7 linked regions of the Homo sapiens genome follow. The protein of the gene in region 7 purifies or fractionates together with the protein of the main gene of each other region. This does not show direct contact. Each region holds a gene or a part of one and is shown on either strand. Other genes may lie near its edges.

Region 1 (3,500 bases), on a different chromosome or scaffold from region 7:
ATGTTTATTTTTATTTTTGAGACAGAGTCTCCCTCTGTTGCCCAGGCTGGAGTGCAGTGGAGTAATCTCGGCTCACTGCAACCTCCACCTCCTGGGTTCAAGCGAGTCTCCTGCCTCAGCCTTCCAAGTAGCTGGGATTACAGGCACCTGCCACCATGCCTGGCTAATTTTTTTTTTGTATTTTTAGTAGAAACTCAGTTTCACTATGTTGGTCAGTCTGCTTTTGAACTCCAGACCTCAAGTGATCCGTCCACCTCAGCATCCCAAAATGCTAGGATTACAGGCGTGAGCCACTGTGCCCGGCCTGTTTCTTAAGTATTTTTATGGTCATTTTACAAACTTACACCTGTGAGAACCAGACTAAAATTCTCTTGGTACCAATACAGACCTTATACAAAATTATTCTATGGCTGTCTCTCTCTCTTCATCACCAAAACTTTAAATGGATAATGACAGATCATGAAGAGAACCAAAGAAGAAAATGTGGGGATAGTTCAGTTACAAAACACTAGCAATACTAATAGGAAAAAATAAAAAACTTCAAAACACAATATCCCATAGAGGATAAAGTCACATGATAATGTTGCTATTGAACTGTGACTTAAAAACTGTTAAAGAAACAGGCAATATCCTATTAACAAAAATTTATGAGTTACGAAAATCTTGCAAGACAGTGACATAAGTAATCAGTCTAACACTTTTAAAACTAGTGATTTTCAAAGATTTAGGAACTAGAGAAAATACCACTTTGTATTACCCAACTCAGGTTATCTTTACACATTGCATTTCAATTGAATTTACTTTGATGAGTTTAGAGACCCTAACAACTAGGCCAGGCACCATGGCTAACACCTGTAACTCTAGCACTTTGGGAGGCTGAGGTGGGAGGACTGCTTGAGCCCAGGAGTTTGAGATTGGCCTGGGCAACATAGGAAGACCCTGCCTCTACAAAAAAATTTAAAAATTAACCAGGGTGTGATGGTGCATGCCTGTGGTCCCAGCTACTCAGACACTGTGGTGGGAGGATCAGTTGGGCCCGGGAGGTAGAGGCTGCAGTGAGTTGTGACTGCATCACTGCACTGGGTGACAGAGGAAAACCCTATCTCAAAAAAATAAATATTAAAAAATAAAGCATTTTCATAATCTGGTTTAGCCAGTCAGAAGTTTTGGTGAGCAAAAATAAAAGACTGATGTGAAAAGTATCTTAAACTATGGAAAGTTCCATTAAGTTTTAGGTTTACTTACCCCACATTCATAACACTTAGATTTATCAAAGTAGTTTCGCCTTCGGATGAACTCAGCTGCTCTTCCATTGTCAATAGCAATGCTTGCTTTTATCACTCTACCAAATAACTAAACAAGAGAAAAATGTAAATGTAGAATGTATTTCACTGAAACCTAAAATTAATTATTTAATCAATTTTCTCAAATCTTCAATTCCAGTTTATTTTGGATTTTTTAGCAATTGTCACTTAGGTGTGATAAATTCTATTCTGTAGTATTCTTATTCCTGAGATTCCACCAATGTTTTGAGAACCCAGTAGTTTGACCTCTTTTCTTTCTATAAGTTAGATATCTTAAGAATCTACTGATATCTGCTAGACCTGATGATCCACTATATCCCCACATTTTTGGCCTGGATGAGCATAAAGGCTTTGGGGCTAAAAACCTTGATGGAGATGAATAGCTTACCTGTTTGTTGTTTATTGCCCTGGTACAGTTTTGTGCAGAGTCTTTATCCAAAAATAAAATAAATGCAACCCCTTTACTCTTCCTGGTATCTTTATCTTTCATGATGGTAACCCTTAAAGCATAAACAAAGAGTTAAAAATGAGGCAGCAATAAATAAAACAGATACTAATACTTGAAAAATTCATTTTAAAAAGGGCTAAAAATTTATAAGATAAATTAATACATTTGAAAAATCAGCTATCTCTTCAAAGTCAAGGGATATCAAGAATGGAAATGGGAAAGGGTGATACTGATTTAACAGAAGTGAGCACAGCTATGATTAGGAGTTAATCAGAGATTGAAGGGTGAAGTAAAGAAATTACAGAGACAATGAAATCTTAAAGTGTAACCACAATCCCTCTTCCATGCTAACTCCCTCACCTTGCAAAACAAAACAAAATAAAGGTATACTTTACACAAAAAGTAAAATGATTTATTTATTTTTCTAAGTGTTAGAATCAAAGTATATTCTTAATATTCTTTTAAAGAATCTTCAGAAAAATAAGGAAAAAAACCCTCCAGAGCTGGTTGTGGTGGTGCGCACCTGTAGTTCCAGCTACTTGGGAGGCAGAGGCAGGAGGATGCTTGAGCATGGGAGTTTGAGAACAGCCTGGGCAACATAATGAGACCCCGATCTTTAGGGAAAAAGAATCTCCAGTTCTGTGGTTTTTAGCCATACCACCCACCAGGGTGTACCTGAGTGACAAGGAGAGTTATGAGAGCACAGAGCCTGCTCTTTCTCCTGCCCCATCCACATCCCTAGTCATGGAGGCCCTTGCCCACCGTATGTCATTTAACATAGTTTAAAAACAATGTTCAACAGGGCTCTTTGGAGAAATAGCGGATTCCAAGGCTACAGCAGGGCAGGTACAAGAGGAGCTTGGAACATCTTATGCCAGAAGGTAAGAGAGTGCAAGAGTGCGTGAGCGAGTGAGAGAGAGAGAGACGGAGGGAGGAATGAATGAATGAATGATGGGGCCAAGAATACAGCAGCCAGCTGGAAGGAGCTCCCACTGGCCAAATCAAGGACAATTTGAGCATCAAAATAATTCATTACAGTAATAAATTATAAGCCACAGAGAAGGTAGGAATTTATAATTCTTACTGATAAAAGACCAATAAATAAGTGGAGGAGATGGGAGGGAAGGCTCTTGCTTACAACAGAATGCCAAGGGATGACTGGTGAATGTAGAGGGAATGCTGGAGTTGGAAAAATCACCAATTTGACAGAAATATTGAATAAGGTAGTTGCTTTATGTTTTGGAATTTTTCGTAATGTTTGTGAAAGTTATCAGTCTTTTTTTTTAAAGTAGTATTTCAAAAGAAGTATTGGCTTTCTACATCATCCTCAATTAATGATCTCTCATCTGTTGCCTCTTTTCCAATTCCACTGCTTTTTTCTTGTCCATAGGGGCATTACTGTTTTAACAGTCTATTCTTATTGGTTCCTTTATGGTAATTTTTTCTCTTATAATTTTCTCATATCCTTAAGTAGTCTTCTACTTAAGGAATAAATAAAATCACACCATTCCTTTGTTCAAAAATCTTTGGTTCTGTAAGTTGCCTATTCTTTGTCCCACTGTCAGTATCCTTGATGATTTGGCTCCCATCTCCTTCATCTTTCACTGCTCCTTCCCACGCACACACTATGAAGTCTACCCAAAAGAAACCACTCAATGCTCCAGTAGCATGGCCTGTATTTCCCCAAATTTGTGCCTTTGTTCATACAGCTTCTATCTTCTTCCACCTCTGAATCACTGCTCATTAAA
Region 2 (3,500 bases), on a different chromosome or scaffold from region 7:
CTCCCCGTCTCAACACGAGGCCACTCCAGGGGCAAGGCGGCTGCTGCGAATCACCAAAAGAACAGGTAACAAGAGAACTTGGTCTCTAGTACCACGTCCCCACATAATATTCCAGAGGAGTGTTCCGTGGGATCTTCCTAGGAGTTGTTTGACAACCTTTCTTTACTCAGATAACGTTGAAAACACTGAATTAAATGAAGTTTTTCAGTAGTGCTATGTAGACCTATGCTATTTTGTTTTATTTTATTTTTGAGACAGAGTCTCACTCTGTCACCCAGGCTGCAGTGCAGTGGCATGACCTTGGCTCACTGTAGCCTCCACCTCCTAGGTTCAAGTGATTCTCCTGCCTCAGCCTCCCAAGTAGCTGGGGCTACAGACATGTGCCACCACACCCCGCTAATTTTTGTATTTTTAATAGAGATGGGGTTTCAGCATGTTGGCCAGGCTGGTCTCAAACTCCTCACCTCAAGTGTGATCTGCTTGCTTCAGTCTCCCAAAGTGCTGGGGTTACAGGTGTGAGCCACCATGCCCGGCCAACCTTTGCTATTTTAATGTGTATTTTGAGACTTTAGGAGCACAGATGGGCTTTATCTGTAATTTTATTTGTCCTGTCTTACTACTTTCATTAAATAAAGTTTTGTTTAACATATCTATCATGAAGTTGCAGCTTAAATAAAATAACTAATGATGTCTTTAATGTGAATACAGGGATGAAAGAAGAGAAGAACCTTCAGGAAGGAAATGAAGTTGATTCTCAGAGCAGTATTAGAACAGAAGCTAAAGAGGTAAATTTAAGATTATTGTATGGTTTTGTTCATGGCAAACAAAGGCTAGATAATTGGTAGTTTTACCTTACAATAAATTTCTAAGTACTTCATTCATATATTAGGTAAACAGTCTTTCTTTTTACTTATAATTTCTTATGAGAATTTCCTGTAGTTCTATGTATATCAGTATTCGCTGCCCTTTTAAAGTTTTTTGTTTGCCGGGCGCGGTGGCTCACGCCTGTAATCCCAGCACTTTGGGAGGCTGAGGCGGGCGGATCACGAGGTCAGGAGATTGAGACCGTCCTGGCTAACACGGTGAAACCCCGTCTCTACTAAAAATACAAAAAATAAAGTTTTTTGTTTAATTGGCCATTACTTTTTTTTAACTGAGTTTTTTCTAATGCTATGCATCATACAAAAGTTGGAAATTTTATTTTTTTTAAAACTGAACAAACCCTAAAAATATACAGCTCAGATGTAACCATCATTATCTTTTCCATGGATTTCTTCGAGCTTTTTCAGTCTTGCTCTGTTGCCCAGGCTGGAGTGCAGTGGCATGATCTCGGTTCACTGCAACCTTTGCCTCCTGGGTTCAAGCGATTCTTGTGCCTCAGCCTCCCATGTAGCTGGGATCAAAGGCATGCACCACCAAGCCTGACTAATTTTTGTATTTTTAGTAGAGACAGAGTTTCTCCATGTTGTCCAGAGTGGTCTCGAACTTCTGGCTTCAAGTGATCTGCCTGCCTTGGCCTCCCAACGTGTTGGGATTACATGTGTGAGCCACCACACTTGGCCTTCTTCGACCTTTTTGTTTATATATGCATGCATGTGAATTTGTTTAATGTTAAACCCATGTTTAGAACATAATGGAGAACTCTACAGTGTATCATTTTACAGCCTGCTTTAACTTTACCATGTTAATAATTCTTCAAGAAGTTTGTTTTTACTGACCACATGATTCTCCATTATACAAATACAGTCTTTTTCTGGACATTCAGATTTTGTTTTACACAATTTAAAGTAATATATTTGTACATAAATCTTTGTGCAGGTATTTGATTATTTAGGAATCATTAGTATTTGACTTAGAGTCATGGTTGTCTAGCCTGTGGAATCTGGGTTTTTTATTATTCCATACATCTGTAATTCTAATCTTTCATCTTTAACAGGGTATTGTCTATTTAACATCAAATAAAGAGCTTTTCTCTCAGATTCTGGATCATGTGAGATTCTGCTTAACTTAGATGTTAGCCTGGTACTTACATCATACAGGTTATTAGAGGTACCAGATTTTAATTCTGTCATTCAAATTTATCCACAGGCTTCAGGTGAGACCACAGGAGTTGACATCACTAAAATTCAAGTCAAGAGATGTGAGACCATGAGAGAGAAGCACATGCAGAAACAGCAGGAGAGGGAAAAATCAGTCTTGACACCTCTTCGGGGAGATGTAGCCTCTTGCAATACCCAAGTGGCAGAGAAACCAGTGCTCACTGCTGTGCCAGGAATCACACGGCACCTGACCAAGCGGCTTCCCACAAAGTCATCCCAGAAGGTGGAGGTAGAAACCTCAGGGATTGGAGACTCATTATTGAATGTGAAATGTGCAGCACAGACCTTGGAAAAAAGGGGTAAAGGCAAGTATTTCTATACTGTGTATTGCTTTAGGTTATCAAAATTACCAAATTCAACCCAATTGTTGCCAGTAACTTCCTGGCAACAATTGGGTTGAATTTCATTTGCCTTCTATCCACAGGTAGATAGTAATATTTCTGATATTTTTATACAGAGGCAAAACGAGATGAATTCTTTTCTCAGAATTTAAAATTGCTATTTAAAAAGCTTTGTGTAAAACTTTCTATGGTGCATCTTTCCTCTGGTATTGAATAAAAACAAGGAATAGAGGAATGGTAACAAATTTAAGTGGTATTGTATCTACATGGTGACCACCTGTAGTGACCACCATGTGACCACAAATTGCCTTTGAATCGTTTTCAGTCTCTTTTTAAATGAATTATTTGTGGTATTTCTAGTACTGAAGGAGTTTTGATATTTTATTCTGAATTATTCCCCATTTAAAAGAGTCTATTCTCACTGCTTATCAGATATTTTCTGCCCTTTGTAGCTAAACCCAAAGTGAACGTGAAGCCATCTGTGGTTAAAGTTGTGTCATCCCCCAAATTGGCCCCAAAACGTAAGGCAGTGGAGATGCACGCTGCTGTCATTGCCGCTGTGAAGCCACTCAGCTCCAGCAGTGTCCTACAGGAACCCCCAGCCAAAAAGGCAGCTGTGGTAAGAAGTATATTCACTTTGTGGTGCTTTATTCTGTGTGGTAGGAAAGCAGGAAAGACTAACTCTCCACTAGCATTCTATCTTGAGTATATCACTTCCTGGCATTTCCTAGCATTTTAGTAATTTGGGTTACTACTGTATTTTATACTTACAGTTTGATATTTGTGAAGTAGCAGGACAGGATTTTTTAAAAGCTAATTTTTAGGTGGCAAGATATTTTGCTTATTTATATACTCAACCTTTAGATTATCGATTCTTAGATTCACAGGCTTAAAGAATCATAGCCACAATTCTAAGAAGGCAGCAAAAGAAAATGAATATGCTCAAATTAAAAAGCCTGACTCTCACTGAATTACCTGACTCTTCCTTTTGTAGGCTGTTGTCCCGCTTGTCTCTGAGGACAAATCAGTCACTGTGCCTGAAGCAGAAAATCCTAGAGAC
Region 3 (3,500 bases), on a different chromosome or scaffold from region 7:
TAACTCATTTATTTGCTTTATCTTAGGGTAGTATGTGTTTAATTAAAATTTAAAATCTATGTAAACATCTATGCCAGAGATTTTGCCTGTAAATAGTAAGAAATTAAAAAAATCAAAAATCTTTAACGTGTAAGAAAAAAAGTTCTAAGTAAGAAAGAGATAAACAACTTTAGCAAGTTAACTACTTATAAACTGTTTAATGTGCTTACCTCAACTAATGTATTTTCCATTGCAGTTCTCCAACTTTAATGATTTGTTGTATTGTTTTCCCTGTGGAGTGAATATTGATGTATTTTCATACCTGAGTAATTCTTGGTTTGTATTTTCACCTTTTAGTAAAGGAGACTGTAATAGTAAACTTGATCTTGTAATCTGAAGGAAAATATACATCCATTTCCTAGGGATATGAGTCAGTTTCTTTCAACTGTGATAGCTTAGACAGTGGCTATGTTTATGGGATTATGTATCTTTAAACATGAAGAATTTATCCCTAGGATATCTACACCTTTCCTCAATAAAATACTGGGTTCATCATGAATTGAATCTTTTAAGTTCTTTAATCTGGTTACATTTTTAGCTTATATTGCCTCTTGGTTTTTTTTTGTTTTTTTTTTTGTTTTTTTTTTTTTTTTTTTTTCAGTAAATATCCTGAAGATTGCATTTCTGGGAATTATTCCAGGTTCTTGTTTCAGATTAGTAACCCTTTTCTTGTTTTGTTTTTGCTCAAGTAGAGGGAGGGAACAGAATTCCAAAAGTATTCCCTGTGCAGATAGAAGTTAAAAGGGCTTTTATTAGGTTACAGGATCTGGTTCTTACATTCCAGCAGACTCTCTTGAACCAGTATATTCAGGGAGCCATTTGTAGTGACTGACGAATAAAGGCAAGGATCTCTTAAAATAGCATTCAAAGTAAAGTTTATATAATTTTCACCTATACCTGTACATCCTAAACTGTGGTACCCATACCCTGGGATTGTACAGTAGTGTGCCAGATAGTATGTGAACCTAAAGATTAAGTGAAATGTACCTTCTTTGATACACAAATTTACTGGAAAATAGAGTGGAACATTGTTTTAATCATGGAGGAACTGTAAAGTGAAAAGCAGAATTCAAACATAGAAATTTTGAATGTAACCAAAGATTTCAGAGAATTTTTTTATCTTGGAGCAAGTGACCACTGGTGATGCCACCCCCCACTCCACAGGGTTATACGTTTTTTTTTTCTCCTTTATTAGAGATTATTTTGTGGAAATGTGTGAGAAGTACTCTTATTTCACTGAGGTGTGTCTTTTATTTTTGGCATTTTTTGAGTGGCCCATCAAACTTTCCAGATAATTGGCTCTTCGTTCCCTGAAAGAGCTAAGTATAAGCACTTCACTTGGAATATTCACTCCTGTCTGTTGATCAAATTACAGAAACATGAATGCTAATCCTTAGGATCTTTTTTTTTTAACTTTATTATCCTTTTCTGTAAAGTAATTCAAAAGTGAATGAAACTTTTAATAGTATTTTTATTAGAAGTTACAGAAAATTTTTGACAGTCTAAATTAAATTACATTTACAAGTTGCCTCTCATTTATTTTATTTCTCAAGGAATGTTTATAGATTAGTATCTAAGTCTGTGGTTTATTTTAACATATAAATCTTTGATGTGATAGACTTACTTTAAGTGATAAATATATGGTTACATAAAACATTTTAAACTATTTTATAAAAAATATTTATAACTTTCACTTTTGTAGAAGAATACCTGCAGTTGACTTTTGATAAATCAGTATTTAAAATTTCTGCAATTTTGCATCCAAGTACCTACTTGAATAAAATACTTCTGGGCAGTGAACAAGGAAGCCTGCAGTTGTGGAATGTAAAATCCAAGTAAGTATTTTAGTTAGAAAATAATATAGCTGTCACCTTATCCTCATCTACTACTTCCTAATGTATACTTAAGTCTCATTTCTCCCTGCCCTTGTATATTTATTTGGAGGGTTGTCTATAAATAACAGTTGGTCCCCTGTATCAGAGGAGTCAATTAACCTGGGATCAAAAATATTCAAGGAAAAATAAATAAATAATAATACAACAATAAAACATCACATTTTAAAGTAGTACAGTATAACAGCTATTTACATAGTATTTACATTATATTAGGTCTTATAAGTAAGCTAGAGATTATTTAAAGTATATGCATAAATGTGTGAAAGTTATATGCAAATACCACACCATTTTATGTAAGGGACTTGAGCATCTGTGAATTTTGGTATCAGCAGAGAAGTTGGGGAAGTCCTGGAACCAATCCCCCACAGGTAGTGAGATATAACTATATGTTTGCTTTTGGAGTTGTTGCTGGTGGCATCACATATGTGAAAGGTGGCATGTGATCCTGACACATGTTAGACAGCTTCATAAATGCTCACTGAAAAGTATGTACTAATGACCTAATAACTGTAAAGAATTGCTATAGAGAAGGCTCTAATAAAGGTCTATGAGATCCATCAGAAAATAATAATAATGAGATTATTACTAGGGAGCTTCTGATTTTCCATACATGAAGATTTTCTATACATGAAGAAGGTAAAAGATGGAAAGGCAAATCAATAATTTAGTGCTAGCATTTAGAAATGATTTTTAGGGTTAAAAGTACTTCCATAATCTCCCATAGATATGGCAAATATCTAATATTGATGTAGCTAGAGGGCTGGATACATGATTTTGAATACTTCTATCCATTATGTAAACATTTATCAGTAGAAAAAGGTGGCAGCTCACACTTCTTTGTATAGCATTTTAAAAAGCAAACAAAAATATTTGACCATCCAAATTGTTTTTTTCCAAAGTCCTTTTAAATTCAAAAGGGAAAATAAGATTATTAAAGGTTTGATGTTTTAAATCAGTGTTTCATTACAATTTAACAAATACCATTGACTGCCTACTTTGTGCTAGGTTCAGCAATAGTGACTGAAATACTGTCTTTGCCCATTTACAGAATTTAATACATGATTTAATATTTTAATGATAATTATAATGATTTCAGATACCTCTGTTTGCTCCATGGATGTGTTATTTATCATTCATGACTTGCTTCTGAAATTGAGAGCAGCATTACTGTTGTCATATAACAGTCATATAACATGCAAATAATATTTTTATTAAAATATAAGTTATTCCCTTTCATGATGTTTCTATAAAGATACTGCAGTCCTAAATTTTTTTTACTGTAGCCTGTAATATAACATGATTTTTACACACGTATTTTTTTTTCCACTTAGGACATTTAATTTCTTAATGAGGTGGCATAGCATAGTAGTTAGTTTGAGACCTAGAATTTGTCTGGACAATATTACTAACCTTGTGACATTAGCTTAATCATCAGAATAGTGTGTGGAAGAGTAAGAACTTAATAAATATCACCTATTATTATTTCACTTTTTAATGTGTAGCTGATATTGTTTTCCTCCAAAAAAAAAAAAATACAGCTTTCAACTATTTTTCTTCTTGTAGTAA
Region 4 (3,500 bases), on a different chromosome or scaffold from region 7:
GTTCCAGAACAGAGTTCCTGGACTCCAAGCCTCTGTAAAGAGCATCTCTTCTGACTGAACTATCTTTGCCCCTGAGCCTCATTCTATGCTGGCTAAGGTCCAAGCATCCTTGACTACCTTCAGGTGGCACTTATCTGGAAAGCCTTCTTTGACCAGTTCCTGTTGAGATGCTAAATGTCTGCCTTTTCCCAAAGGACAAAAGAGAATAGGAACCCATACAAACCCCATTCCGGGTACTAGCACAGAGCCTAGCACACACCAGCTTAGGTTACCACTTGGCAAAGGGATCTCCAGCTGCATTTCCCAGCTTCAGACCACTCTGAGCTGAGTTCCACTTGACCAAAAGCAAATAAATGGGCTATATATACTGCTTTGTGCCACTTTATCTGGTTAACTGGAGAGTACCAATCTCAAGAATACAAGTCTCACAGTGCAATCCTGAGGGCCTCCTAAAAACCAAGGGATTGGGTGCCCTAGTCACCAACTCAAGGCCCCGAAGACCCATAAGCCATCTCTTGAGAATCAAATGTTGACCTAAGGCCTCCTTCCCTCTTTCATTCCTCATCTACAGAAGTCCCCTATATTTCCCTGCCTCCTAGCCTTTGAGCTTACCATTTCTGCCTGGCCAGCAATTTCTAGCTCAGGGGCCAGATCTACCAAGCTCACCTTTACCCTTCCTCCCGCAAAGCTGGATGTAATTTAAAAAAAAAAAAAATTTTTTTTTTTTTTTTGAGATGGAGTCTCGCTCTGTCTCCCAGGCTGGAGTGCAATGGTACAATCTCGGCTCACTGCAACCTCCGCCTCCCAGGTTCAAGCAGTTGTCCTGCCTCAGCCTCCCCAGTAGCTGGGATCACAGACACCTGCCACTATGCCCAGCTAATTCTTGTATTTTTAGAATTTTCATCACGTTAGTCAGGCTAGTCTTGAACTCCTGACCTCAGGTGATCCAACTGCCTCGCCCTCCTGAAGTGCTGGATTACAGGTGTGAGCCACCACGACCGGCCTGGGTTTTTGGGGTTTTTTTTGCAGGGCTCCCAGAGAATACCCTGTGCTTTTACACCAGTGTTCACTCTGCTTTGTGTTGGAATGGCAGGCAAAGTGCAAACTTATTACATGTGAAGCACCAAGGGGGCACTAAATTTCCTGCGGTGCCCACCTCAAGTGCCTTGTACATAGTAGATACTTGATGTTTCCCTCAAGTCAGAAATCCCTGCTCAAAGGCCATTCCAACTAGCAATGACCTGAGGCAGCTCACTTCCTACCTGAGCCCCTTTCCAAACAGAGTTCATACCTTCTAGTTTCAAGGTTAATATGTGGATGCTTGGCACAGGGCAGCTAGCAAGGCCTACCAGGAGCAGAAGCACAGAGTGCACTAGTGCAGGAGCACTAGGGAATCATGGGAAAACTGGAAGACTCCCCTCACAGATGAATTATTATACCCCAGAAGTTTGTCAGCCTCTTGGTTATCTAACTAGTAATTTAGAACTTTAACCACACCTCCAGTAAGGTTAGGTCCAGCCTCCCCTTCCAGGGTTACCAACGATTACAGAGAAAAGACTTGCATGCTGCGGCAGCTTGCCCTCGGTCGGCTGGGAGACAGTAACATTCAGGGAAGTTTGGGGGTGCTGAGGCACCTCAAAGAGCCGACTAGCCTGTAGCTGCTGCCTCACCCCACTCTCTGTAGAGTGCCCCCTACATACTCATAACATTCTCCCCAATCAGCACAACTCTCTACTTGCACAGCAGAGGCAAGAAAGCCCTTCTATATCTGAGCTCCAGTTTCCTAACTCAAAGCATCCATCCCAACGACACACTGGGGGAAAGGGCAGGACTTGGGGTACTCCACTGTGCAAACCACCAACGAACCACAAGACCCAGGTTCCAGGTGTCACTCAGCCATTTACTGGCTAAGTTGTGACCCCAAACATTATAACACCAAGGGACAGTCTGAGGATTCCACTCTGGGGAGACTTTTTTAAAAGGTTACTTCCAGCCTCCCCGTAAGAAACAAGGGCACATGTGCATGAAGACTTGGCACCACCCATGTTCACAGAAGCTGCGTTCTGTCCAACCAGAAAGCACTTGGCAGCTGCCCACCCATTTCCTTCCGTGAGGCCCTTAGAAAGACCTTTCCAGCTCTGACTGACCTGAGCTGGTGACAGAGCTCCCAGGGTCTCCACCAGCAGCCTGTGCAATCTTTATCTGAACTTATGAGAAGGCAGGACCGGCTCTAACTCCTCTACCATAATCAGGGCCAGGCTCAATGCCCAGATTCTACCCACTGTAACACAACCTCACCAGAAGACATCAAACCAGCCAGGTATCTTCCAAGGCCACATCATACTTATCTCCGGGCAATGCCTGGGCCAAGATGCTCCCCTTTTTAAACTTGTCACAACCCGTCCTTTCCCAAGACAAACCCATGTAGCTACTCTGGAGCTGCTCCTCACCGGCCTGAATTGTTCTCCACACTAGTTGATGCCTCCTCTGGGCTGCACCTCATGCTAGGCCCCAGATGAACAGGGATCTCCTTACTCCTACAGAATGCAGATTTGAAAATTCACAATGGCAAGCGTATGAGCTGTGACAGTCCAAACAGGGGTGTGTGTATGTGTCTGCATGTGTGCTGAAAGGGCTTTAGGTGATGCTAAAAAGCTAAAGGGCTTTTTATATGATGCTTTCTGCATGTCAAAATGGTCAATCTGAACGATGAAGAATGACTAGGTTATCTGAGGAGTTGGTTATCATGTAGGTTTATTTGGGGAGTTGGGATATGAATCAGAGGATGAACATGTTAGATGAGAAGGTATGCCCAATGGAGGCCACATTGCCACAAGAGCCCAGGCACAAATCCATAAACCATAACAGGAGCTGCAGATACTTTAGAGTTCCCCACAGCTGTGCACTTCCCCAGCTCAGCTACCTGGGGAAGCTGGGACATCCTCCCACTCTTCTCCAGTCCCCTTACACCACAGCTCTGTGCTTCTGCACTCCAGCCCAGTCTGTGAATGGTTCCTGGGCCCACTGAAGTCAGAAGGTAGAAGAGCTTCAGTCACCCAGTAACAGCCATTCCCAAGGTCAGGCCACTGGCAGGGACCTAGCTGGCTGAAAAGCTTCCCAGGGAGCTGATTAACGGTGCAGACTCCTAGCTGTGCTGAGGAGCATCTGACTCAGTTGGACTGGGCGGCCAGGTATGGGAGTCACCATTCAATAAAAGAGTAGCAGCTGGAAGACTGACACTCCAGCTATGGCCACTACCACCTGCACATCCAACTAAGATTTCCCCAAAATAAGCTATTATGGGAAGATGAGAGGAACTCTTGGGAAGTTACTGCTCTGGTTCTATGTAACATTAGAAGTTCCTCTCCAGGTTCCTGGCCTGGGCAGGCCACCCATCCCTGGCTGCAGTTGGAGGTACCAGGTACAGCCTGAGAAGAAATGACTGGAGGAGAGGCTGGAAGAGTGCTACACTCTGGACTCCATTGTTTCCGAGTTCTTGC
Region 5 (3,500 bases), on a different chromosome or scaffold from region 7:
TACATTGATGAGCCTCATAAACATAATATTGGCCAAAAGAAAATAAACTGAGTACATAAAAACCCTCATCAAATTAAGGGTTACAGAGAATAAAAAGGTACTTCTTTAATCAAATAAGGGATATCCAAAACTTGAAGGGCTCATCACAGTTAATAATAAGACACTGAAAGATAAGAATGTCCACTATCACTAAATCTATTCATCATTCATAGATGATGTTATGATCATATACATAAAAAATCCAGATGACTCTAAGGGTAAATTATTAGAATGAATAACAGCATATATCAAGTTATAAGTTTGCTAGCTATAAAATTTTTATACAAAACTGAGTTAAAATTTAATATGACAAAAACAAAAAATGAAATTTAAATAAATCATAAATGAAATTTAATTTATCATAAATAAATCATTTATGACAGCATAAAAAACTATAAAGGAACTAGGAATTAATATGACAAAGATGGTGTAAAACAATTATTTGGTGCAAAAGTAATTGTGGTTTTTGCTATTATTTTTAATGAAAAAATAATGATTTTATCAAAAAATATAAAGTATAGTTAAATAAACTCAGAAATATACCAAGTCCTTAGACTAGAAGACCCAATACTGAAAAAGTATCATTTTTCTCCAAATTGATCTGCAGAGTAGTGGTAATCTCAATCAAAATCTCAAAGAGTCTTTAGAATATTATAAAATGATTATAAAATTTATATGAAAATGCATGAAACATGAAATATTTAACATAATCTTTAAGAACAACAAAGCTGGAGGAGTTCTATACTCAATATCAATATTTATTATAAAGCTATAATAATTAAGACTGTGGTACTGGTAGAGAGAGAGACAAATAGAGCAATCAAGTAAGACTAAAAATTCAGAAACCAACCAATCAAAATACAGACACAATATATGTCTGCAGTATCAGATGTAGTACTATAGGTGGCAGAAAAAGTATGAACTCTTGAATCTATGATACTGGGGTTTAGTTATTCATAGAGCGAAGACAACAAAACTGGACTGCACATCACATGTACTACATCCAAAAAAGTCAATTTTGGTGAATTAAAGGTTTAAGGTTATCCATTCTAAACACGGCCTTAAAATTCAAACAATCTAAACAAAAGATAAAATTCCTAGGTATTGCAATATGCATAAAAGTACAGTCTATACAAATCACACTTTAAAAAATTTAAACCATTTTCCTGCTTAGAAGTTAAAATAAGAATTATTTATAGTACATTATAAAAATCTCTTATAGAAACCTCATGAAAATCTAGAACTGTAGTAACTAAGCACTGAGAGTTCCACCTTCATTACCTCTCTGGAAGCTGGTCTATATCCATAGCCAGATGGCAAATTTTTGTCTTCTTCACAACCTTTGGCTCCCGGACTAAAGTGTAATTCAACATGAAAGCGTTCTTCTGAGGAAAGATCCTAAGAAATATGACAGAACATTTTCAAAATGAGAAACTTTAAGCTCTTTATTTATGTCTGGTAAAACACAAATCAAGAGCTCTGTTTACCTTATTAGGATCCTCATAAAGCATGATAACAATCTGAGTCATGTAGTTGAGCTCATTGACAACGTTTAAATAATCCATAGCTCGTTTCCACTGTTCATCCTTTGATTCCTGAACAAAAGATACATGTGGTAATCATTTTCTCAAACTGTGTTACTTGAAAGTCACTTTATTGTCACTATGGTAGCTTGTTTAATCCTAGTGATACCACATAAAGTGAATACTTATCATATGCAAAATTTTAAAAAATAATTCCACTACATTTAAAAGTCTTAGTATGTTATTTAAGCTTGTTTTGATAAAATATTTTTAAAATCTCTACAAGTTTGAGTATCCCTAACTTGAAAATCCAAAATCCAAAACCCTCCAAAATTCAAAACTTTTTGAGCACTAACATGACACTCGAAGGAAATACTCATTGGAGAATTTTGGGTTTTCAGATTAGGGATGCTAAACCAGTAAGTATAATGCAAGTATTCCAAAATACAAAAACAATTCCAAATTCCAAAAAACTTCTGGTCTCAAGCACTTCAGATAAGAGATATTCAACCTATATTAGAAGTTCTAGTGGTAACCTTTTTTAACTGCTTATACAAAATGAAAAATAAATAATTTCTTGAAATATGACAAACACTAATGAATTCTGAGGGTAAGAGACCGTTTTTAACTTTGTCAGGTTCCAAAGTACCTAGTATAGTATCATATTTCATAACCACAGAATACTATCCTATAACAGGAATGCCATTTTTTCCCACCATCATATAGTTCATGTATGCAATATAGGCCTATCAACAAGTATCCCTATTACACTGAAGTGATATTCAAAAATCAGAAGAAGGAGGCATATGTAAATTCTATTGATCTTACCATCTCCTTCACCATTCCTCCATCTTCATTCTGAGAATCATTGGTCTTTAAACATGTAATCATAGAGCATCAGAACTGAAAAGGATCTTAGAGAACATGTACTACAAGCATTCAAAGTAGAAAATTCTATCTGAAAAGGCAAAACTACTCAAAGTAAAGTCTATAGTCAACAGTTAACAGGATCTACTTAAATTATACGTACATCACAGATAAATTTCCTTTGTTGTATACTATGTAATTACATTACAAATATATAAAAGGACAACATTTCCTTTTTGTATACACTAAGAGTATACAATATTATGGACTTTAGTACAGAATGCACCTTGTTTTAAAAGCAAATTATAAGACCACACATTGACTGTATGCTTTTTAAAATTCAGCGTGTATTTTATTTCTGTTTTAGACATTATACATTCCGTGTGTGTGTGTGCGCACATGCATGTGTGCAAGTTTAGGAGGTAGTATGTGAAAAGATGTATTTTTTTCAAAATTGATAAGGGAAAACATAAATTAGCATTACTGAGTTTCACTAAATGTAAGTTAGCACAAATGATGAGTTTAAATACTGAAAATTTTCATTAGGTGAACAGATAATTGATCTTGTGATTTTGTGATACTCCAGTATTAAGAACACCATTTAATATCTAACTCAGTGTTGCAGTTATAGATTTTGCTAGGTCTTCTCTAATAAATAGATAAAATTAAGTAATATTTAGTAGTAACTTCCAGAACGTAATTAATATGTAAGAAGACACAAAAATATCTTTTTAAATTAAGGCCCCATTACACATATTCCTGAAATCTTATTTATAATCTTAGTTCCTTAACAAACTTTACAAATAATTCTACAGAAAGATTTTACCCCATCCATTCTGAATAATTAAAAATTACAAAGGGGAATATACTGAGTAAGATTTTAATTATATTACTTACAGATTCTTACAAGGATAATAAGAGTTGGGATAATGAAAACAAAACATTTTGGCAGACTTTAATTTTCATCTTAGTAAATACATGTAATTATTTTTCCCCCTGGAAGCACTGATTTTTAAAATAATGAAGTTGTTCAGTTTTTGTTTTAGAAATGCAGCCTGAATTCAATATATG
Region 6 (3,301 bases), on a different chromosome or scaffold from region 7:
ATAACAAAAGCAACATATTATTTGAAAATACAAAACATAACAATAAAAAAGGTGTAGCTAGTACTAAATATGTCATTAGCAAATTGTGTCCATTTTAAATGTATTATCACCCTAATTTTTCAGGGGCTCTTAGTGCCAAAGACCCTCAGCCCAAAGTTTTCTGGTGAATTTGTTTATACTTACAGTAGTATGTACTATTTTAACACCATGAATCTCAACAAACAATTCTTAAGCATTACTTGATTCAACTGCAGGTGATATTTAATTTGGTTGATGTTGTATCAATTCAGAAGTTACTCTTTTATATAACATCTCCTAAAGTCTCTTTTTGGAAGCTTAGTATTTGTGTTATTAAACTCATTGTAGTACTGTCAAGTACTCTAGATGCTTCTGTAGTAAATATTAAGAAAACATGCCTATGTGATATTATAACAGGTATTTAAAATTCTCAAGCTAGAAATGTTAAATTTTTCATAGAAAAACTTAAAAAAAGGCCCATATTTGGATTTTAATGTATGATGGTCTTTATTTACAACTTTATTGGCAAAAAAGAAAAGGGAAACTTTTAAACAATTTAACACAGGGCATTGTAGCTGATCCTGTCAGATAAAAGAAGTTCCATTTTAAATGTCCATCTAATTGTCCAAAGATACACAATACTGAATCTGCATACGCAGTTTCCTTTATGAAGTACAGTGCTCATGTTTTAGGCAGTCTTCTAAACATACAAATACAGAGGAAATTAAATCACTCATTAAAAACTGTGTCAAATGAAGGGTATTTTAAATATAAGTTTGTTGTTTCTGGTAATAGCACATGCCCAAATGAAAACCAAAAGATGGAAAGGCAGATACACTTCTTACTTGGGTGGACAGTTACAACATCAATCATTTTCTGCAATGACCATTATATTTTCAATTTATCATGAACTACTCTGAACTTACTATGAGATGTAGCCAAAGTCAGAAGAGAAGATGTAGGGACAAGATGCCTTTTTTGCAGGAGGTTAACTCCTCCAGAATCAGCATAGGAAATAAACATCCTGTTGATTCTAGGTGGAAAGAAATTAATGTAGTCAATTTCAACTCGTGCTGAGCTGACTTAATTTTTTCAGCGATGTGTTTGGTGTCATTCTTCTAAATCAAGTGTATTTAATTCTTCTTCTAGTTCATCCAAATCCTCTCCAGTGAAAAGATTTTCATCAACAGGAACAGCATCAATGGCTCCATTTTCCGTTCCCTCCCTCTCGTTGTCCTCTTCCAAGTCACTTCTTTCACCATTTTCAGCCCTACCTCCAGAAGCTTCACTTAATTTGTTTTCTAAATATAAAAACTGGAATCAGTAAGGCGTAGAAGCAGAAAACACCATTCCACATTAGCAATAGACAACATAGACTGATACTACACTTCCTCTTTTCCTTTTCTCCATGAAAGCCATTTCCCCAGAATTACTCCAGCAAGAACTGATCATTCTTTTCTGAGCTTATCTGTGCCAATTATCTATACCTACTATAAAATACTGTTTTTCACTGTAGCCATTTGACTACTTAATGGTTTATACATTTGAGGGCAGGATCAATCTTCTACACCTCTGTGTTCCCTACATGACCTAGCAATTAGATTTTAAATAGTCAATTTCCATATAATATTTTATTTGACTAAATGGTTATGGAAACCAAAAAAATGTTTGTAATATAAGCAGCTACTTGGCTTTTGGTTTTGCAAATAGTATTTAAATCATGCTGTTGTAATGCTGTGATTGTGACAGCAGAAAATCTTCATCATGTAATCAAATTGTTAAAAAAAAACATAGTGCTATACAGCTACTTTTTCTTATAGGTTATAAATAACTGAGAGAAAAAAAATGCTGCCTTTTCTTGTTCAATGCCATTGACAATTACACAGACATTTTTTAACAGCCTAATTTAGATTTTAGTTATTTCAAACATCTCTGATGACAAAGTCTTGGGAATTTTATAATCTCTGAATTATTTGCAGTTGTGCCTATTGTCACCAAAGCCCCTACTTCTACAAAGAGCAAGTCAATCTGAATACTGGCAAGATAGTGGTTTGCTAACACTCTCAGATCTTGGGAGGGCAAGCTGGTTTTTCAAGTTACAGCTTGTGTGCTTTTATTGTAAAAATAATGTTCAGCCTTTTCTGTCTCAGCTTTTGCCTTAATGGGCATTTCTTCTGCTGTTTTCTCCCAGAGCAAGCATGCCAAACTTTTACCCCTTTCTTCAAGTACCTAACTCAAGGCACAATTAGACATAAATTATACCAACAATCCTAGACAGCCTTCCCTCCATTCTCATACCTAACTCATTATTTATACTTTCATGTATTGCTTCTATAACTAATCTTTTATCATCAACTTCTCCTCCTTACCAGATCCTCTTCCTCTGAGCTACAGATACATTTAGGTTTTCCATATCCTAAAAAGCCCTTCCCATGACCATGTCTTCCCTCTAAACATTAAGAGAGAGAGGACTGTATTCATTTTTCTTCTCACCGTTATCATTGCAGTCTCAATGAAACTGGCACCCTATTCCTATAACCAATTACAACCAGTAACTTATTTATATTCTTTTTCATCCTACTTGCTTCTTTGGAAACTTGTTTCTTGATTTTTCTCTGACCTTCTCAATGTCTTTCCTAAGCATTTCTTCTTTTACTTACCCCATAACACTGATGTTCTGTAGGGTGTTCATGTCTACACAATATCCTAGACAGTGCACTTTTGATAATCAAAAAATCTCAAACTCATGAGGTCCCGAAGTGAACTCATTGACTTTAACTCCAAGCTCATTTTTGTCTCCTTCTAGTTTCCATTAATGATTTTAATATACACCCAGCTGCTCATGTCTACAGCCTTTCACTATTTATTACTGCTTTTATTTATGGTCAAACCACACATTTATGTTACCAATCTGGTACCTGCACACATCTAAGTTTGCCAAGCCTGGTATAACCCCCTTTAGATAACTTCCTAGTTCTTAAAATTAGGCAAAAGTTAGCATACTTACCATCTTTATCTGAAGTATATGTGCTGAATCTTTCAAGACTGGCTACAGTAATACCTGTTTCATCTACATCTCTTGGGATGTACAGGCTTAAATCTATGTCATTTACACTCACTGAATCATCAACCTTTAACAACATATAGAAAAGAAAGTTGTTACAAATAAGAACAGTTTTCTTTTACTCCTGACATTTATCTTAATGAGCCAAAATTATCACTGATCCAAGTGAAAACAAAAGACCAATTACTGGCCAGGTGTGGAGGCTCACACCTGTAATCC
Region 7 (3,500 bases):
GCTGAGGCAGGAGAATGGCGTGAACCCGGGAGGTGGAGCTTGCAGTGAGCCAAGGTCGCGCCACTGCACTCCAGGCTGGGTGACAAAGCGAGACTCCGTCTCAAAAAAAAAAAAAAAAAATTTAATCCACAACTTGTATCATCCTATAAAAGTCAGAGTAAATGTTGAAGATTTATCTATAGATATATCTATGTAGATACATATTAGGCATTTATGCATATCAAGTTTTGCCCAGTTAGGATTCCTTACAAATTTGCTTCTGTCTCAAATTTACTGGGAAGGTCATGGCGTTTCTAGCTGAAATTGTGCACAGAGAGTTGCTGCCTAGAAAACTCTGTGGACAAGAATTATTGAAATAACATGTATAAAGTACAGAGCACAGCTCCAACAGAAACAGAATAAAACAAAAAGGTAAGCTCTCAGTTTGAGAATAGCCTCTGTTCTTTTTAAATTTAAAGATGGACTGCTGCTGATAGTTCCTAACACAAATGCCATGAGCATTATTATTTTTAATGACATCTTATCAATTAGCTCCATAATGAACACACTTAAAATATGTTTTGTTTACTATACATGTTGACTTCACAAATTATCATGCTTGAAACCCTCTGTAAGCAGTTTGAATGCTTATATTAGTAATTCTGCTGGGCTTTGGTCTATCCTGTAAAAACAGTAAAGATGGCTTAGCAGATTTTTTGTTATTTTTTTTATGTTATCAACATCACTCCTTGTCATAATTACTTTCTTTACTATGAGGATGAACATCATCTGGAAAGAGTTTCTAAACCAAAATACTTGACACCTGCTGTGAGGATGGTGGTTTTCCACCTGGCTTTAGGCTTGTAGGACAATGGCTGGATAATACCATCCATCTAGCTCCTGGAAAGACTGTGGAGTGTGAATCTGAGTCAAGAAAAGGAGGGCCGGGCGCGGTGGCTCACGCCTGTAATCCCAGCACTTTGTGAGGCCGAGGCGGGCGGATCACGAGGTCAGGAGATCGAGACCATCCCGGCTAAAACGCTGAAACCCCGTCTCTACTAAAAATACAAAAAATTAGCCGGGCGTAGTGGCGGGCGCCTGTAGTCCCAGCTACTTGGGAGGCTGAGGCAGGAGAATGGCGTGAACCCGGGAGGCGGAGCTTGCAGTGAGCCGAGATCCCGCCACTGCACTCCAGCCTGGGCGACAGAGCGAGACTCCGTCTCAAAAAAAAAAAAAAGAAAGAAAAGGAGGCAGCAATTAACTTCACGTATTAATTAGTGAGTAATATGACCACACATTGTCTAGAGTATACTGTCTATGAGGCAGGGGCATGAGATACATATTTGCTCATCAAAATGCCTCATATCCAATATGCCTAAATGTTAACCACTGAAAACATAAAAAAACAGGATTGGTTTAACAGTAGACTATTATCACAATTCTAGAACTTATGACTTCCTACTGGATTTCGTTATACCATAATTGCACATACAAAATATCTTTCAAAATCAGTTTAAAATCAGTAATGACACATTTATGCTGAAATGTAAATATTTACTTGCAAAATGGGATACATATATGCCAACATATAGCCAGAAGAAATATAAAATTATTCAAGACACCAAATAAGCCTCAAAAAGTCCTTAGATCTTAAAACTCTATGTTTCATAAACATAGAGGCAGGAAGAAATGACTCCTTTACAGTTACTAGAGCAACTCTAGATTTCTAGGCCTCTGGTCAGATGACACAGCCATTTTAGCTGTGCTCTCATTTTAGCATAAAAGGGAGTTTCTCATAAACCCAGACTAACGTTTTCAAAATTCATAATTGTTCTTTCCCTATATTTGCCATTAAAACCTTGATTACAAAACAACTTCAGAGACAGGTCAAGGCTTGACAACCAGAGGCAATAGCATCATTGTTATGTAACTCCTTGCTAAGGCTAAATTGCAGGTCAAATGTGGTTCCCTTTGAGGGAAGGCTGCAATCTCACCTGCCTTTGTGAACTAGTAATCCTGTGATCTACCAGTGAGGATTAGCATTTCCTTTCTAAATGCAGTTTGGCAAAAAATTTGGTAGGTACCAAACTGAAAGCCACAGGAAGGGATAACAATTTCAGACAGGATTATAGTGGGGAAAACAGCTAGCTACTAAGGCATTACAGCAAGATATACCAAAATTAAAGACACATATACCTTTTGACTTATCTTTTAGAAATTATTCCCACAAGTACGCGAATATATCTATGCAAATATCTCCATTGTAACACTGTTTGGAAGAGTAAAAAACTGAAAACAAACTAAATGCCAATAGAGGATCTGTCTAAAAAATTAATAGACTATACACACTGATATAAAAGAATAAGGTAGATTTATATTCAAAAGAGCTCCATGATAAGCTAAAAATTGAAACAACTGAACTCATGGAGGTAGAAAATAGAGATGGTTACGAGAGGCTGGGAAGAGCTGTGGGGTGTGTGGTGGCAGGGGAGGGGCGGGGATGCTTAATTAGTACAAAAACATAGAGTGAATAGGATCTAGTATTTGATAGCACAATAGGATGATTATAGTCAACAATAATTTATTGCACATTTTATACCAACTAAAAGAGCATAACTAGAATGTTTATAACAAATGATAAATGCTTGAAGACAATGGATATCCTATCTACCCTGCTGTGATTATTTTGCATTGTATGCATGTATCAAAATATCTCATGTACCCCATAAATATACGCACCTACTATATCACTTAAAAAAAATTTTATGGGTACACAGAAGTTGAATACAGACCAGTGTGTAAATGACTGTATAAAATTTTCAAGCATATATACCCACTGGTATACTAGCCAGCAGATACGTAACACTTAAATATGCTAAGGACTGCTTTAGATGCTTTTCACATATAAACACACTTAATCTACACAACAGCATTATAGATTTTTTTTTTTTTTAGACAGAGTCTTGCACTGTTGCCCAGGCTGGAGTGCGTGGCGCTATCTCGGCTCACTGCAAGCTCCGCCTCCCAGGTTCATGCCACTCTACTGCCTCAGCCTCCCAAGTAGCTGGGACTACAGGCGCCCGCTACCACGCCCAGCTAATTCTTTTGTATTTTTAGTAGAGACGGGGTTTCACCGTGTTAGCCAGGATGGTCTTGAACGCCTGACCTCGTGACCTACCCGCCTCGGCCTCCCCAAGTGCTGGGATTACAGGCGTGAGCCACCTTGCCCGGCCTCATTATAGATATTCTTATCCCTATTTTACCAATGAAAAAGCATCTTGCCAAAAATTAAATGTCACAGGAAGTAAGGAATAGAAATGGAACTCAAACTCAGGAGTCAGGCTCCAGAGAAGATACTTTTACCTTTTAGAGGCATTAAAAATCATTCTGGGAGAGGAATTATTACGGAAGGTAAAGAGGGGAAGGTTTTCATTTTTCATATTGTGCATTTCTTCTTGAATTTACTGACATGTAGTACTTTTTTTATGAAGTAGTAACAGTGGTTAACTGGGTGGTAAACT

The links.
Region 1: the proteins of THOC7 (region 7) and ZCRB1 fractionate together in Homo sapiens (co-fractionation; one large-scale study listed by BioGRID). This does not show direct contact.
Region 2: the proteins of THOC7 (region 7) and ZC3H11A purify together in Homo sapiens (affinity purification with mass spectrometry; 2 studies listed by BioGRID and IntAct, with this or other methods). This does not show direct contact.
Region 3: the proteins of THOC7 (region 7) and WDR36 fractionate together in Homo sapiens (co-fractionation; one large-scale study listed by BioGRID). This does not show direct contact.
Region 4: the proteins of THOC7 (region 7) and ALKBH5 purify together in Homo sapiens (affinity purification with mass spectrometry; one large-scale study listed by BioGRID and IntAct). This does not show direct contact.
Region 5: the proteins of THOC7 (region 7) and PPIP5K2 fractionate together in Homo sapiens (co-fractionation; one large-scale study listed by BioGRID). This does not show direct contact.
Region 6: the proteins of THOC7 (region 7) and ZC3H15 fractionate together in Homo sapiens (co-fractionation; one large-scale study listed by BioGRID). This does not show direct contact.

What each region holds. Positions count from the first base shown.
Region 1 is NC_000012.12:42,316,095-42,319,594, forward strand, and holds part of ZCRB1 (zinc finger CCHC-type and RNA-binding motif-containing protein 1), read right to left. Parts: intron 1,805-3,500; coding exon 1,693-1,804; intron 1,354-1,692; coding exon 1,246-1,353; intron 1-1,245.
Region 2 is NC_000001.11:203,847,623-203,851,122, forward strand, and holds part of ZC3H11A (zinc finger CCCH domain-containing protein 11A), read left to right. Parts: coding exon 1-65; intron 66-708; coding exon 709-785; intron 786-2,088; coding exon 2,089-2,404; intron 2,405-2,892; coding exon 2,893-3,059; intron 3,060-3,434; coding exon 3,435-3,500. UniProt on the Homo sapiens protein: Through its association with TREX complex components, may participate in the export and post-transcriptional coordination of selected mRNA transcripts, including those required to maintain the metabolic processes in embryonic cells.
Region 3 is NC_000005.10:111,098,848-111,102,347, forward strand, and holds part of WDR36 (WD repeat-containing protein 36), read left to right. Parts: intron 1-1,741; coding exon 1,742-1,874; intron 1,875-3,497; coding exon 3,498-3,500. UniProt on the Homo sapiens protein: Part of the small subunit (SSU) processome, first precursor of the small eukaryotic ribosomal subunit.
Region 4 is NC_000017.11:18,197,328-18,200,827, reverse strand, and holds part of ALKBH5 (RNA demethylase ALKBH5), read right to left. Parts: intron 1-3,500.
Region 5 is NC_000005.10:103,175,801-103,179,300, reverse strand, and holds part of PPIP5K2 (inositol hexakisphosphate and diphosphoinositol-pentakisphosphate kinase 2), read right to left. Parts: intron 2,436-3,500; coding exon of another isoform or gene 2,391-2,435; intron 1,635-2,390; coding exon 1,527-1,634; intron 1,438-1,526; coding exon 1,321-1,437; intron 1-1,320. UniProt on the Homo sapiens protein: Bifunctional inositol kinase that acts in concert with the IP6K kinases IP6K1, IP6K2 and IP6K3 to synthesize the diphosphate group-containing inositol pyrophosphates diphosphoinositol pentakisphosphate, PP-InsP5, and bis-diphosphoinositol tetrakisphosphate, (PP)2-InsP4.
Region 6 is NC_000002.12:186,506,561-186,509,861, reverse strand, and holds the end of ZC3H15 (zinc finger CCCH domain-containing protein 15), read right to left. Parts: intron 3,150-3,301; coding exon 3,026-3,149; intron 1,320-3,025; coding exon 1,129-1,319; 3' UTR 501-1,128; downstream 1-500. UniProt on the Homo sapiens protein: Protects DRG1 from proteolytic degradation. Stimulates DRG1 GTPase activity likely by increasing the affinity for the potassium ions.
Region 7 is NC_000003.12:63,853,806-63,857,305, forward strand, and holds part of THOC7 (THO complex subunit 7), read right to left. Parts: intron 1-3,500. UniProt on the Homo sapiens protein: Component of the THO subcomplex of the TREX complex which is thought to couple mRNA transcription, processing and nuclear export, and which specifically associates with spliced mRNA and not with unspliced pre-mRNA.